2 separate regions of the Homo sapiens genome follow, and region 2 is linked to region 1. The links come from fine-mapping of genetic effects on gene expression. A gene starts in region 1. The other region holds a variant in brackets. All regions are shown on one strand. Distances are from middle to middle.

Region 1 (5,000 bases):
GGGTAGAGGAGGGCCCTGGCAGATGTGGGGTCTAGAAGAGGACAGGAGTTATCAGGGCCTCCGGCCATTGTGCTGGGCCTTTGCCTGTACAATTGTTTCTCAAGCAGTTGTGTCCCTGTGGCTTTGGTGCGCCTGTGTGCACTTTCTCCCTCCACCTGGAGCATGGGCTAACACCGGAGGAAAGGAAAAGACAGAGTCAGACAGGGTAAGTGGGGCTCCCTCCCCTCTTCTCTCTAACGGGGCTGGATTGAGGGCCTCTGGCTGGGGAGGTGGGGGTGGAGATCCAGTAGGAGCAATAACAGAGGAAGGGCAGGGCCTGCCCCATCACCTGAATTCCAGAGATGCCAGTGTGCACTGAAGCCCCAGGCAGGGCGTGCCCAGGACCGGATCCTGGATGGTGGTAAGGGACAAAGCTGGAAGGGAGACTACAGGGAAGGAGAAAGGAAAGAAGGCAGAGCCATGACACAGTCAACTTACAGAATGGCTGGGAGTCAAAGCTCCTGGGCTGGTTTCCTGGCTATTCCACACACTCCAAGACATAGAGAGAATTTCGGAACTGGAGGGGACTCTACAGATGATTTATTTGAGATTGAAGAACCTAGAAACCAAACAAAGAAATATCATATGGTTACTTTGGTATCTGACACAGCCATGACACCAATTGCTAGTGTAGACACAATAGCTGTGTGTCTTTTTGCAGGAGCCTGGGGAGGGGCCATGGTGCCAATGCACTTACTGGGGAGACTGGAGAAGCCGCTTCTCCTCCTGTGCTGCGCCTCCTTCCTACTGGGGCTGGCTTTGCTGGGCATAAAGACGGACATCACCCCCGTTGCTTATTTCTTTCTCACATTGGGTGGCTTCTTCTTGTTTGCCTATCTCCTGGTCCGGTTTCTGGAATGGGGGCTTCGGTCCCAGCTCCAATCAATGCAGACTGAGAGCCCAGGGCCCTCAGGCAATGCACGGTGAGTTAAGGGTGGGCATCGTAAGAGGAATACACCTTGGGCCCATCCTCCCTCTCTCCCTGTAGTCTCTGAGGCAGAGAGTCTCTGGTTTCCTGTCATTGGCATCAGCGGGAGGAGGGGTCAGAGGCCAACAGAGGATCTTTTGCCCACAGCAGACAAAAAAAAGGGAAAAAGGGCTTCTTTCATGGAAGCCACCAATGGCCTTATTTCTCTTCCCTCAGGGACAATGAAGCCTTTGAAGTGCCAGTCTATGAAGAGGCCGTGGTGGGACTAGAATCCCAGTGCCGCCCCCAAGAGTTGGACCAACCACCCCCCTACAGCACTGTTGTGATACCCCCAGCACCTGAGGAGGAACAACCTAGCCATCCAGAGGGGTCCAGGAGAGCCAAACTGGAACAGAGGCGAATGGCCTCAGAGGGGTCCATGGCCCAGGAAGGAAGCCCTGGAAGAGCTCCAATCAACCTTCGGCTTCGGGGACCACGGGCTGTGTCCACTGCTCCTGATCTGCAGAGCTTGGCGGCAGTCCCCACATTAGAGCCTCTGACTCCACCCCCTGCCTATGATGTCTGCTTTGGTCACCCTGATGATGATAGTGTTTTTTATGAGGACAACTGGGCACCCCCTTAAATGACTCTCCCAAGATTTCTCTTCTCTCCACACCAGACCTCGTTCATTTGACTAACATTTTCCAGCGCCTACTATGTGTCAGAAACAAGTGTTTCTGCCTGGACATCATAAATGGGGACTTGGACCCTGAGGAGAGTCAGGCCACGGTAAGCCCTTCCCAGCTGAGATATGGGTGGCATAATTTGAGTCTTCTGGCAACATTTGGTGACCTACCCCATATCCAATATTTCCAGCGTTAGATTGAGGATGAGGTAGGGAGGTGATCCAGAGAAGGCGGAGAAGGAAGAAGTAACCTCTGAGTGGCGGCTATTGCTTCTGTTCCAGGTGCTGTTCGAGCTGTTAGAACCCTTAGGCTTGACAGCTTTGTGAGTTATTATTGAAAAATGAGGATTCCAAGAGTCAGAGGAGTTTGATAATGTGCACGAGGGCACACTGCTAGTAAATAACATTAAAATAACTGGAATGAACTCCTGATCCCAAAGCCTATTGTGTTTTCAACACAAGGTAATAGGAAGCCAAGCAACTTGCATGTCTCCCAATCCCTGTCTAGGGACAGCTGCTGGTGCAGGATGGAAGACTTCCTATAAACAGAATGGGCGACCAATTGTGTCTACAGAGGGGGTGGGCTGAGCATGGGCACGCATGTCCCCAGCCTCCTGGACGAGCAAAGTCAGTCAAAGCGCTGGTGATCCCTGCTCCGCGTGCGTAGCAGTGTCTGTGCCTCTCCTGCCCAGGGGCTAGAGAGCAGTCTCCAGTGCAGGGTCCCCATCCTATCTGAAAACAGTGGAGTCAGTGACCCCAGGTGGAGGGACTTCCAGTTTTAACAATGGGTTGGTATGAAGGCCAGAAGGAGTGAAACATGTGAACTTTCTGGCGAGGAGACTCCCTCTTGAATCATCCATATGTAGCCCCGGGGTCACTTGCGAAGAGTCTCTAACAGCTTCTGCCTCACTCCTAAGCTCTGACCGCTAGGCTTTCACCCCAGCCGCCGGTCCTGATTCCTGAGATCCCAATATTGAGCACCAGGTTTCCTGGAATTGTGTGCTGCGGCTGTGATGTAGGTTTCGGTCGCTGGAAGCTGCTAAACCATAGCTGACGCCCCCTCCTAAGCCAGCCTTCCTTCCCCGCGCGGGCATCTGTCCAGGGCCTTGTCGCGCTCTCAGTCTCCTTCGCAGCCTGGCCCCAACCGTTCAACTTCAATAAAGCAAAACTCCAGCCACGCCCGTCTCCGTGAAGTTATCGCCATAGGCCGGCCAGGGGGCGCGAGAGGCACCGGGGTGATTTCCGCGGGAATCGATAACCAATCGGATTCCCAGGCCGAACGGAGCACACCCGCCCGCCCTCGCTCTTTCCCCGCCCTTTGCCCCGCCCCGCTCCTTCCCCTCCTTTTGTCTGTCCGCCGAGCACCCCACTTCACCCCATTGGACCGCGCGGCCGCCGCTAGAGCTCTGCGCCTGCGCACGCACCGGGCCGGGGACTGGGTGGCCTGGTGTGTGGGCGCGGCAGGGCGCAGGCGCAGGCGCAGTGTGCGTCCGCGTCTGAGGGGAGGGATGTGGGGGAAGCGACGGCCCCCGGTTTGTTTGGGCTGTGGGCGGTGCGCAGCGGAGAGCCCGGGAAAAGCGGGAAATGGCGGCGCCGAGCGCGGGGTCTTGGTCCACCTTCCAGCACAAGGAGCTGATGGCCGCTGACAGGGGACGCAGGTAAGTAGGGAACGGTCTTAGGGCTCCTTAGGGGAGCCCAGGGAAGGGGAGCGTGGCCCCCAGGCGTGCGGCCCTGCAGCCCCCTCCCCTCGGAGCCCCGGAAAGCAGCCGTGTCCGCGCTTCCTGCCAAGGGTGGGACGCCCGCCCGAGCCGCTCCGAGCCTGACTCCGCGCAAGGGCCCGCGGGCGGACCTCTTGGCCTTGTCTCTCGTGGGAAAAGACTGCCCCAGCCTCCCTTTGTTCAACCCACGAGGGTTCTAAAGGGGAGGTCTTTGCAGTCCTGCCCGCTCTTGGGTTCTCTTGAAGATTCTTCATCCTTTCCTCTGGCTCCCTTATGAGGGAAACTATAAAAAGACCATACTCTGTCTCCTTAAAAATCGACGAGACCTTCTGCAGACCTCGGTGCTCTGCCTGATGTGCATTTGATTTGTATCGATTGTATCATGATCTGCATGGCTTTGCATAGAATGACCAGATTTTCAAAGAAGTCAATACAGGGTTTGGAAATTGAGTACTTTTGGCAGAACAAGGGGGTTCCTGTGGCTCCGAGTGTCCATGCCTCTGCCCCGGTCATTCCATTTCATGGCAGTCATCACCCAGGAGAACATTGTAATGCCTCCTGCTCGAGACTGAAGATTAAGGTCTTCGCAAAGGGAACCTGCAGAAGGACACAGAATTAAGACGTAGGAACTCCGTGGTGCCCTTCGCCCCTCCTCCCCTTCCAGTTGTGTCCTGAAATTCTAAATGATTGGAAACTTTTATAATGTTCACGTTTAAGACTCTCATACTACAGAGTAGAGGAAGGAGCGGGTGTGCAGAGGGGGTGATGCTTCAGATTAAAACTAAAGAGTTGATTGAAAATTCAAGTCTGGAACTCGAGAGAGTTAAGAACTATAAGTCAGTAAGTTGCAAGTATGGGTGAGATTGTCTAGGGAAAGGCTCTTTGAAGGGGCGTCCCTAATGGAATATCAATATTAAGGGCAGGCCAAAGGCCCTCTAAAGAAAACAGGAACTGGGTAGGCAGAGAGAAGACTCCCAAAGAATGCTGTCATGGAAACCAGAGGAAGAGAACGATTTAAGGAGCGAATACTACTGGTAAACTAATGGAAGAAATCTGCTGCACCACTGGTTAGTATCCCAGCTGCAGTGTTATATGTGATCGTTATTACTGCTTTGACGTATTCGAAAGTGATTCATTCTTAAATAGGTTTTTTTATTTGTATAGCTCTTTTTCTTGTAGCCAGTTTTTCCTGAAAGTCTTGGGTAATGGAAATATTACAGTAAAAAGAAGAAAAAATGGAGTTTCAGACTCATTTTTCCAAACCTCAGATTCATTGGCTGCTTCCAACCCACTTCATCTGTTTTAGGATCCCACCTGCTATCTTAGTTCTCCCAGTTCTTCCAGGACCCAGCTCTTCCCTCTTCTAACTATAAATCTCTCACCCAATAGCATCTGCAAGCCAAGTGCATCCATTCCATAGATGTGTGGTATTTCACTGACTCTAAGATACACATTTTTTCCCTCCCTTTTTTTTTTTTTTTTTTTTTTTGGACGGAGTCTTTGCTGTGTCACCCAGGCTGGAGTGCAGTGGAATGATCTCAGCTCACTGCAACCTCCATCTCCAAGGTTCAAGCGATTCTCCTGTCTCAGCCTCCCGAGTAGCTAGGACTACAGGCATGCAGCACCACACTCGGCTAATTTTTTGTATTTT
Region 2 (5,521 bases), 84 kb after region 1:
ACTTCCACAGACAAGGAAAATTCACCTCTCAGATTTTTACAGTCACACACTTAGTAAGTGGCTGAGTTAGTAAGTGGCTGAACTGTAACCAAAATTCAGGTCCTCTAATTCTTAGTCTAACATTCTTTTCCCTATCCTAAGATGCACCCCTAAAGCTATGTTACATTATTTTTCTATGACTTTTATTATAACATTAAGCCCTGTTGAAATAAGCTCAGGCCTCATAATCTTTTTGCTTATGGAGACTGTTCAACTTCTTGCAGATAAAACAGGTTAAAAAAATGTTTTGGCCGGGCGCGGTGGCTCACGCCTGTAATCCCAGCACTTTGGGAGGCCGAGGAGGGTGAATCACCTGAGGTCAGGAGTTCGAGACCTGCCTGGCCAACACGGTGAAACCCCGTCTCTACTAAAAATACAAAAATTACCCGGACATGGTGGTGGGCACCTGTAGTCCTAGCTACTCGGGAGGCTGAGGCAGGAGAATTGCTTGAACCCAGGAGGTGGAGGTTGCAGTGAGCTGAGATCGCACCACTGCACTACAGCCTGGGCGACAGAGCGAGAATCCGTCTCAAAAAAAAAAAAAAAGTTTTAAGCGAGTAGATCTCCTCATAAGCATTCTTACCAACCACAATAAAATTAAAAGAAAAAAAAAGACCATTGTTCTTTCTAACTTAGGAGTTCAGAGCTCATTTAAGAATGGGTACTTAATCCTAGTGTATAGGTTCAGACCACCGTTTGGTTAAGGTTTTGTGATGGTGATAAGCTAATAGGGACAAGGCATTGCTCTCCTGGGTGGGGGTCCACTTGAAAGCTGTTCACTCACTGAATCAATCAATCACAATTATCCTGCCAGGGCACCCACACAGGCAGGAAGGTCCAAAGGACACTGGAAATTTTGAACGCCAGGTGCTGGGTGTTTCTCTCTTTAACTTAAAGAAGAATTTCCTTTCCAACCTCTTTGTTCATGTATATGCATGAGGTGGCTAGTGGTAGTCAAGCCTGAATTTTATTACTGATGGTGGAAAACTGTGTTGGGGGCAGGGCCAAGGAATGCAAGCAATGTCTTCCTTCTAAGGTGGGAGCTGGAATTTGCCCCTTGATCTTTCTCTTCCTGGAGCTCTAGTTTCTCTCACAGCCAAAATTTTTGAAAGAGCTGCCGGCACTCATCTTCTCCATTTCCTTACTTCTCTGCACTCCTCAACTTACCCAATCTGGCATCTTCACTCTACTGAAGCAGCTCACACGGGGGGCTCCCCTGTCAGAGGCAATTGAACCAGAGCAACTCCATCTTGAATAGGAGCTGGGTAAAACAAGGCTAAGACCTGCTGGGCTGTGTTCCCAGACGGTTATGGCATTCTAAGTCACAGGATGAGATAAAAAGTTAGCACAAGACATAGGTCATAAAGATCTTGCTGATAAAACAGGTTGCAGTAAAGAAGCTGACTAAAACCCGCCAAAACCGAAATGGCGACGAGAGTAACCTCTGGTCTTCACTGCTACCCTCCCACCAGCGCCAACAAATGCCATGGCGACCTCAGGAAGTTACCTTATGGTCTAAAATGGGGAGGTATGAATAACCTACCCCTTGTTTAGCATATAATTTAAAAAAATACACACACATGAAAATGGGCAACCAGCAGCCCTCAGGGCTGCTCTGTGTGTGTAGTAGCCATTCTTTATTCCTTTATTTTCCTAATAAACTTGCTTTTACTTTCCTCTATGGACTCGCCCTGAGTTCCTTCTTGTGCGAGATCCAAGAACCCTCTCTTGGGGTCTGGATTGGGACTTCTTTCCAGTAACACCCTTAGCCTCCATGTTAACAGATTTTGTTCATTTCTAACCTTAAGTGGCACATCAGGGGCATTTCATACCCTCGTGAGGGACTCATGGTTACTCCCTCATTCCCAAACACTCTTTCTTGGTTCTCCTCTTGACTTTCCGGCTGCTCCTTCTTTGTCTTTTTTTGTTAGTTTTTTCCATTATTCATTCATTCATTCCATATTACAGGTATTTAAGGAGCACCTACCTACTCTATGTCAGTACCTCTCTAGGTTCTACGATCCAAAACTCCTGCTGTCACGGAGCTTATAGTCTAGTGAGAAGTGGTGGGGCAGAAACAGCAATACAACAATTAAGAGACTGAATTGTTTGGTGGGGGAGTGCCAAAACCCAGGATGGAATGATATATTTAAGGTGATAATTACTATGAAGAAAAATTAAGGAAGGGCCAGGCGTGGTGGCTCATGCCTGTAATCCCAGCACTTTGGGAGGCTGATGTGAGAGGATTGCTTGAGCTCAGGTGTTCAAGACCAGCCTGGGCAACATATGGAGACCTTGTCTTTACAAAAAGAAAAAGAAAATTAGCCAGGCCTGGTGGCACATGCCTGTGGTCCCAGCTACTTGAGAAGCTGAGATGAGAGGATTGCTTGGGCCTGGGAGGTAGAGGCTGCAGTGGGCCATGATTATGCCATTGCACTCCAGCCTGGGCAACACCGCAAGACCCTGTCTCAAAAAAAAAAAAAAAAAAAAAAAGAAAAGAAAAAAAGAAAGGAGAGGTGGATAATAATGAAAGGGCTGGTATATGTCATTCTAAACTGGATGGTCATGGGAGGCCTCACTGAGAGGTCAGCATGTGAGGAAGGCTATGATGGAGATAATGGGGTGATCCATACAGATGTCTGTGGAAGAACCTTCCCAGCAGAGAAACTAGCAAATGCAAGGCCCTGAGATGGGAATGTGCCTTACACATTGGAGGAACAGTAACAAGGCCATTGTGGCTGAGGCAAAATGATTGCTGGGAGATGAGGCCAGAGAGCATGTGGGATTAGTTTGATTTGATGTAGGTAGAGCCTAGGAAAGGTTTTTTTTCAATTTGTTTAATTTTCTCCTTGCAACAGGAAGCAAGGCATCAGCTATGCATGAGGATGTGGAAGGAGATGTGGAGAGAGAGGAGAAGGTCTAGAAGCCTTCTGAGAGAGTCAGAGTGGGAGAGTGGATGGAAAAACGAGACTGGTATGTTTATCAGGACGTAGAAAGGTCAGATGGCATCTGCAGCTCACAGCCATGGAGTTTACAATGAGATCTGTCAGAAGGGCTGTATGTTTTTCTGTAG[T/C]GCCACCCAGCTGTGTGGGTGCAGGCATGGAGTTGGTAGAATTGGACTCAGCCCAGGCTGGGGTTTTGCCAAGTGAGCACCACAGGGTGAGAAAGAGGCACAGGAAGTTGAGACAGATGTAAGGGAGTGACTGTAATGATTGTCCAGGAAATGTGAGCTGGTATGGACGTGAATGGCAAGTTCCAGTGGGCCAAGGGATTGTCGAAGCACAAAAAGAGAATGACTAGAAAAATAGAAGGAGCTGGTTGGAGAAAGTGTGGCTTAAAATTAGGATTGTACAGAGATGGCTCAGGGTCTATTTAGAACTTGCTATGCAATGTGGGAGCCACCAGCAATGTGTAACCTTTGAGCACCTGCAATGGGACTAGCGTGAATTGAGACATGCTGTAAGTGTAAAATACACACCAAATTCCCATGACTTAGTGCCAAAAAAGTAAAATACCTCATTAATAATTTTTAAGGCCTGGCACAGTGGCTCATGCCTGTAATCCCAGCACTTTGGGAGGCTGAGACAGGCGGATCATCTGAGATCAGTAGTTCGAGACCAGCCTCGCCGACATGGTGAAACCTCGTCTCTACTAAAAATACAAAAATTAACCAGGTGTCGTGGTGGGCACCTGTAATCCCACCTACTTGGGAGGCTGAGGCAGGAGAATCGCTTGAACCCGGGAGGCGGAGGTTGCAGTTGAGCCGACATTGTGCCACTGCACTCCAGCCTGGGCAACAAGAGTAAAACTCCATGTCAAAAACATTAAAAAATAATAATAATAAATAAATAAATAAATAATTTTAAAAATAGTGGTTACACCATTAGTGGTTACATGTTTGGGTATATAGGCTTACTCATTTATTTTTTTTCTTTTTATTCATTTATTTTTACTCTTGGCCAGGCACCGTGGCTCACGTCTGTAATGTCAGCACTTTGGGAAGCTGAGGCAGGTGGATCACTTGAGGTCAGGAGTGCCAGACCAGCCTGACCAACATGGTGAAACCCCATCTCTACTAAAAATACAAAAATTAGTCAGGTGTGGTGGTGCGCACCTGTAATCCCAGCTACTCAGGAGGCTGAGGCAGGAGAATCGCTTGAACTGGAAGGCAGAGGTTGTAGTGAGCTGAGATCACACCACTGCACTCCAGCCTGGGTGACAGAGCAAGAGAAAGAAATGAGGGTGTGTGACCCAGGGCAACAGATGACTATATAGGATGTGCAGTAGTTGTGTAGTTTAATCACGTGACATTCAAAACTGGGGGATTTTAGGAAGGAGGGAGGGAGAATTGTCTGGATATAGCAATGAGAGTTCAAAGAGATATCTGTTCCACATTCAGGGCTATGGGGAAAACATTGTCTGCCACCTGGTGGGGGGCGCTGAGGCGGTGTGTCCTCAGGGATGATCCAGGTTAGAATAAGAAGGAGAGAGGATGCTCAAAAAAGAGGAATGCTTGCTGAAAAGGGCCTACATGCTCTGAAGGCACCCTGGACTGGTTTTCAGGAGTTGAGCCAGGGACCAAGGTGTAGCAGGAGCTAGGAATTTAGGGCTTCTTTCCATAAGTGACATTCTGGGGTTAATAAAAGGGACTTAATACAGGACTTAATAAAATTAGCTCTGGTGGTCTCCAGGCGAGCAACTGTGGGCAAGGCACTCCTGCGCTCACAGTGTAGGCAAAGTGGGAGGAGTAAGCATCCTTTCTTTACTGCTGGCAGAGACACAGAGGCCTGGGGAAGAGCAGATGTGCCTTGCATCTGAGTGAGGGTGACTTTTACTCAGAAAGTGCATACCTCCCTCTTCCACCTAACCATAAAATGCTAGAATCCAGCAAAGCCCATATCCTAGCCCTCTCGACTGTTCATGCAATATTTGATAGGTGATTTTTTTTTTCAGCCAATAATGGCTTCAAATTGCTATTTGGAGGTAGATGACTTATAAATGTGGATCTTCAGTATAATTTTCTTTTCTCTGCCTTGGACCTGGATATCCTACTGCCCACTGTGCGCCTACTCATTCTCAGTACGTCCAGAATGAAACACACAATCTCACTCCCAGACCTGTACTTTTCAGTGGAGAGTGCCACGCTCCACATAGGTACCAACCAGAAGCTGGGATGGGCCTGTGATGTCTCTTTCTCCCTTTGTCCCATTCTTTCTGTGGACGAGTTCATGTCCTAAAAAGCTCTCTACTCTATCCACTTTTGTCCATTTCCACAAATCTCCTCCCTTTCACCTCGAGCTCTACCAGAACCTTTTAATTGTCCTTCACACATCTGCATTGGCCTCTCCTGTGACTCTCCACACTGCCCCTAAGGCGACACTTTCAAAATTCCCAAGTCTCTTCACGCCCCTCTTTTCAATCGAAAACTCTGCGGTAGTTCCCCATTGCTCTCAGGATCAAGTTGAAACCCTTTCACATGCTC

What was found. PIP is the estimated chance that this variant, and not a neighbour inherited with it, causes the effect. A credible set is the group of variants that fine-mapping cannot tell apart.
Region 2: its variant is the best candidate, but not a certain one, in a credible set for the expression of CASP2 in whole blood (TOPMed, PIP 0.79).

What each region holds. Positions count from the first base shown.
Region 1 is chr7:143,285,241-143,290,240 of GRCh38, forward strand. CASP2 (caspase 2) reads left to right here and starts at 3,111. Exons shown (of 11, transcript NM_032982.4): 1 at 3,111-3,289. The coding sequence starts at 3,216. It overlaps TMEM139 (transmembrane protein 139), which reads left to right. Exons shown (of 3, transcript NM_001282876.2): 1 at 1-205; 2 at 701-962; 3 at 1,184-2,808. The coding sequence starts at 718. The coding sequence ends at 1,589. It overlaps TMEM139-AS1 (TMEM139 antisense RNA 1), which reads right to left and starts at 1,094. Exons shown (of 3, transcript NR_133932.1): 1 at 737-1,094; 2 at 478-598. RefSeq lists an enhancer at 1-943 and a silencer at 2,738-3,487.
Region 2 is chr7:143,369,105-143,374,625 of GRCh38, forward strand. It overlaps a transcript of FAM131B not described here. Among named protein-coding and RNA genes, the nearest start is that of FAM131B, 9.2 kb to the left of the region's middle. The variant T/C (reference allele first, on the strand shown) is at 3,113.